Regions from separate parts of the Homo sapiens genome. Here region 1 is linked to region 2. The links come from fine-mapping of genetic effects on gene expression. A gene starts in region 2. The other region holds a variant in brackets. All regions are shown on one strand. Distances are between the middles of the regions.

Region 1 (2,916 bases), 250 kb before region 2:
CCTAATGAAAAGTTGATCAAGATATATTTCATTGACTTTAAGATACTATTGATTTTATGTATCAATGAGAAAGAAAAACCATCCAGTTAAACTATGCCATACCATTAATTAAAAGATATATCTGTAGATCAAAGGGCATTTTTTAAAAAGTATGTCTTAGAATTTGATGAAAATATTAAAACGTATGTATCCACTTTTTTAAAAGTATATTTTTAGTATAGGCTGAAAACAAAGCTGAGAGAATATCTGTCTTATTTACCATAATATTTCTATGTTCAATGTTTTGCACATAGTAGATACTTAACAGATAGATATTCATGAATTTTTAAATTAAGCATTTCTAGAATGGCCCCTTTTTTTAAACAGCTAGCACATGTTTGTATTCAGAAAAAGTTGAAAATAAATAAATGTAAATCGATACTTGTATTTATCATCAAAGAGTAACTCATTTTCTCAGGGCAGATTTGAAAATTTACCTTGTTATAATTGTAATGTCATTTTTTAGTCATCCCATTGTGTCATTTTACAGTTATCCTTAAATACCACCTCAAAACCTGAAGTAGCATGTTTTACTTCATAGCTACTTTGCAATGTCCATAAATCTGCATAGATAGTACATACCATTTCTTTATGGTATGGTATGTGGTATATGATATGGACTGCCTGGATTTGTATCTCAGCCCAACTACTTTTAGATATATAATTTTGGAAAAATTACCAATTTTGGTTCCCCCCCCCCCTTTTTTTTTTTTGAGACAGAGTCTCGCTCTGTCGCCCAGGCAGGAGTGCAGTGGTGTGATCTCAGCTCACTGCAAGCTCCGCCTCCCAGGTTCACGCCCTTCTTCTGCCTCAGCCTCCCGAGTAGCTGGGACTACAGGCGCCCACCACCACGCCTGGCTAATTTTTTATATATTTAGTAGAGACGGGGTTTCACCGTGTTAGCCAGGATGGTCTCGATCTCCTGACCTCATGATCCACCTGCCTTGGCCTCCCAAAGTGCTAGGATTACAGGCATGAGCCACCGCATCCAGCTGATTTTCCCTTATTTATAAAATACGAACAGTAATAGCATCTACCACATAAGAATTAAGCAAAATTGGCTGGGCATGGTGGCTCATGCCTGTAATCCCAGCACTTTGGGAGGGCGAGGCAGGCAGAGCATTTGAGGTCAGGAATTTGAGACCAGCCTGGCCAACATGGTGAAACCCTGGTCAGGAGTTTGAGACCAGCCTGGCCAACATGGGGAAACCCTGTCTCTACTAAAAAGACAAAAAATTTGGTCAGGCATGGTGGTGCACACCTGTAATCCCAAGTACTTGGGAAGGTGAGGCAGGAGAATATCTTGAACCTGGGAAGCGGAGGTTGCAGTGAGCTGAGATTGTGCCACTGCATTCCAGCCTGGGTGACAGAGTCAGACCCTGTCT[CA/C]AAAAAAAAAAAAAAAAAAGAATTAAACAAAATTATACTTGATATATATGACTATATGTAGTTTTTATTTTGATGGTACTGATCCTAAACTAACTCCTTATTGTTGCCCAATTCCTAAACATTTTGAAGTTTAGAAATGAGGGGGAAAGAAATACACACACACTTTATATATATATATATATATATATATGTATATATATGTATATATATAGTATATGTATGTTTTTTATATATATATACTTTATATATTTATATGCTTGGAATTGATGAGAGAATGTTTTTTGTCTGTTGTTTGTTTTTAGTATCCACAGTAAACAAGCAAAATGTCTGTGCAACATCTTTTTTGTTGTTATTTTCAAGTATTCTATGACCTTATCCCTGTTTTCTGTTTCAGGTCAAAACTTCACAGCTCATGATAAGCAACCTTCAGTGCTAAGTAAGTAGTTGGTTGTCTGCTCTTTTTTCAGCCAATCAATTCTTTTCTCTTTTTTTTTTTTTTTTTTTTTGAGACGATGTCTTGCTCTGTCGCCCAGGCTGGAGTGCAATCTGGGCTCATTGCAAGCTCCACCTCCTGGGTTCACGCGATTCTCCTGCCTCCGCCTCCCAAGTAGCTGGGACTACAGGCGCCCGCCACCACGCCCGGCTAATTTTTTGTATTTTTAGTAGAGACGGTGTTTCACTGTGTTAGCCAGGATGGTCTTGATCTCCTGACCTCATGATCCACCTGCCTCGGCCTCCCAAAGTGCTGGAATTACAGGTGTGAGCCACCGCACCCAGCCTCAGTCAATCAATTCTAACCTTGCCTTATTCTCCCAACAAAAGTTGTAATAAGATTTTAAGTCATTTTACCCCTCTTTACCTTTTTAATTCACCACGGATTGGTACTACCTATAATAATTACTCTGTGATATGGAAATGTGTTCAGGGCTATTTTACCACAAGTAATTTGTATTATGTGATAATATATTTATTTGCTACCTGCTTTGCTGTAGGAAGTGGTTCATCCTCACTGATACGATCCTTTGAAATTATCTTTTACTTATAAAACTATTGCTTTTATTGTTTTCTTCCCCTACTTTATTTTGTCTTTCTGATAGATTAATTTTATAACACTGGAATATGGTATAAACTTTCAAAGTATGGGAAATTATCTTTTGATATATGTATTTGCTTCAGGCTCAGGATATCAAAAAACTCCCCAGGAATGGGCCCCACAAACTGCAAGAATAAGGACCAGGATGCAAAGTAAGTAGATAAATCTCTGTTATTGAAATAATCTTGTGTATTTGCTATGTTTTTCTTGACAAAAATATTTAGTTCTTCAGATAAACATTTAGGTTGTTTGTGATTTCACTAATAAAGTACAGCTATGATTACTAGTTTAGTAATTTCTTGGACTGGCAGCACATGGGCTGGGTGTAGAATGTAAATAGTGGCGTGAGAAAACCAGAGATTGGCCAGGTGCGGTGGCTCACGCCTGTAATCCCAGCA
Region 2 (2,916 bases):
CCAAAGCACTACATTCGAGGGCGTATCTCAGAAGGGTCCAAGAATCCTAAACTTAAATGTGGCCTTCCAGATTATGATGAAGGTATACATGTCAAGATAAAAGGATAGGAATTTTACATCACCGTTTAATTTGTAGTTTTAAAATATGTAGACATGATATGTGGGCCTCCATTTGTACTACTGACTCAGTTCTTGCAAATATTAAGGGTAGACCTGTCCCTGATCTTCGTGTGTAAAATAGCACCTCCTCTGCCACTCTATTCTTACCCCAGTCTACATTTCTTCATAACATCGGTCACCATCTGATCTACATTTACTTATGTATCATCTCTTTACCCCCACTGGAATGTAAGTTCCACGTCCCTAGAGTCTATATTTTGTTTACTGCCTTATCCTTATACCTAAACAAGTGCCTGGCATGACACCACTCAGTAAAACTTGAATAAATGAATAACAAATCTAGGCTCAAAGCTCTTACAGGTGAAAGGGGCTAACCTGGCAGTCACAAAGGAAAAATATCACTGTGACAACCGTCTGAGGAGCACCTTCTCCCCTTAAAATAACTCACTCAAAACAGTGGAGCTGCAAAGGTGACCAGAGAAAATCCATTAACACCTTAGTGCCCATGACACCAGGTGAGTTGATCGGGCTACTTGCGAGAGGGACATGTGAGTGAGCGTGGAGAGCTCTGAGTAGGCTGAAGAGCTGGATGTGGGGGATCTGGGCTGCTGGGAACCCCGAATGTTGGAATCGCCCTGACAACCTTATGAGGGTGGTCAGATATGGGTCCTGAGGAAACTGATTCCACGGCAACTGCCCGCCAACCCAGCACACCCCACAGTGAAGAGGGGCTTCTGATCCATGAGTAGGGCCCCTCAAATGATGTTCCCCTTTAGATGGTCATGGTCATCAGCAGGGGTGGGTGCATCGATCCTGTGGGGTCTTGGTGGTCGCAGACCAAGCGTCCCTCTTCTCACATCTAATTCACAACGTCTCATCGCTCCGCGGGAGCCCAGGAACTGCCCTACAACAGCCGAAATCCGGGTCGTCTATTCCAACGGACTCCTCTTCCGTTGGATACGGGGGCCGTGAGAGGCCAAACAACCTCCGCGAGGCTACCCCCGCAGCGACCGCTCGGCGGGCGCTCCATTCCTTTACCGGACTGTACACCTCGCCTCCTGGGGCCTGAGGCGGGAACCCGGGTCGCGCTGCTCCGAGGCCTCGGCGGACCGCGAAAGGATGGCTCACCACCCGGCCAGGGCCAGCCCCTGCAACAAGCTCAGCCCCGCCCGCTCCCGCGCCCAGGAGCGGCCGGCGGGGCGGGGTGGCTGGGCCGGCCTCGGGGGCGGGGGCTCGGGGGCGGGGGCTCAGGGGCGGGGCCACGTGGCTCCTCCTTGCGGGCGGAGGCAGGCGGTGCCGCGGCGCCGGGACCCGACTCATCCGGTGCTTGCGTGTGGTGGTGAGCGCAGCGCCGAGGATGAGGAGGTGCAACAGCGGCTCCGGGCCGCCGCCGTCGCTGCTGCTGCTGCTGCTGTGGCTGCTCGCGGTTCCCGGCGCTAACGCGGCCCCGCGGTCGGCGCTCTATTCGCCTTCCGACCCGCTGACGCTGCTGCAGGCGGACACGGTGCGCGGCGCGGTGCTGGGCTCCCGCAGCGCCTGGGCCGTGGAGTTCTTCGCCTCCTGGTGCGGCCACTGCATCGCCTTCGCCCCGACGTGGAAGGCGCTGGCCGAAGACGTCAAAGGTGAGAAGCGGGGGCGGCCCGCTCCCCCGTGCCCCGCCGCCCGGACCCCTCCACCTGCCCGGTGGGCAGCCTCCTACTCCGGGAGCGCGTCCCTCTTCCAGTCACCTCCGCCCACCTCTTCCTCTCCGCGCATCCCACGCCCACCACCTTCATGTTTCTCAGCTCCATTTTTGCCTCCCGCTCCCTTGCCTTTTCCTCTTGGCCCTCATCCCGAGCTTCTTTCCCTCTCCGCGGCCTGGGCCCCCAGACCTGCCCTGCTCGCCCGGTTCGTCCCCCGCCAGGTTACTGCCTCCTTCCCTGCGAGAGGTCTCCTTTGTTCCTTCCTCCGCATGGTCCGCTGACACCTTACCGTTTCCTGGGCCAGCCTTGTGGCAGTCCTCTTCCTCTCGTCCAGGGACCCATGTCATCTTCCTGCCAGGTTCCCTAGCTGCTGTGGGTCAGTGCTGGGGAGAAAAGGGAACGGACATCCATTTTGCCTCCCTGCCACCTTTCTCCACTCCCTCGACTGGTTGACCAGGTGGTACATAGACTTCCTTTCTCATTTTTGTCTTTGATGTGGGTATGTCCACCTGGCAGTTTTCCTATCTCTGTTCCGGGCCTCTCCTGACCTGCCGCCTCCAGCTCCTTAGCTTCTGGGCCACATCCTTCTCTCTCTTCCCCCGCTCAGACCCTTATATTTTAAACCCATGCACCCAGAGGCCTTTGGTGCGTGTTTGGCTCTTGCTCCATGTTCCCAATCCCTGGTTGGGGCACCAAAACTATATTTCCTGAATTCCAAGACACCATCAACTGTGAGACACACTGTTCATTTTATGACAGCCCAAGGGGTAGAAGGATAGGAAAAAACCACTACATGTATAAAGATTTGAAGGTGAACTCTATTACAGAAATGCTAAAATTTTGAAACACTTAAGACTTAGAGTCGAGGAAATATGGTAATAATAGTAATTAATATTTACGGAGCACCTATCATTTCAGGCACCTTACTAAGTACTCGGCATACATTGTCTCATAGTTTCCTTTCCACAATTTAAAGATTCCTGTGGTGTCACACATCCACCTAATCCAGGTAGTGGGTATTTGGCGGGCAGGAGTGGTATAGTGATAGTGATTTGTTCCTGACTTGCTGCCTCTGAATGGAGTTACTTCCTGACTCTGGTGCTAGGTCGCTAGC

Evidence for each region.
Region 1: its variant is fine-mapped to the expression of QSOX1 in whole blood (INTERVAL, PIP above 0.99).

Annotation. Positions count from the first base shown.
Region 1 is chr1:179,906,004-179,908,919 of GRCh38, forward strand. It overlaps TOR1AIP1 (torsin 1A interacting protein 1), which reads left to right. Exons shown (of 10, transcript NM_015602.4): 7 at 1,820-1,861; 8 at 2,602-2,670. Among named protein-coding and RNA genes, the nearest start is that of TOR1AIP1, 25 kb to the left of the region's middle. RefSeq lists a silencer at 2,833-2,916. The variant CA/C (reference allele first, on the strand shown) is at 1,425.
Region 2 is chr1:180,153,431-180,156,346 of GRCh38, forward strand. It overlaps QSOX1 (quiescin sulfhydryl oxidase 1), which reads left to right and starts at 1,439. Exons shown (of 12, transcript NM_002826.5): 1 at 1,439-1,742. The coding sequence starts at 1,478. LOC105371636 (a long non-coding RNA gene) reads right to left here and starts at 1,408. Exons shown (of 2, transcript XR_001738314.3): 1 at 569-1,408. RefSeq lists a silencer at 1,114-1,433 and an enhancer at 1,614-1,713.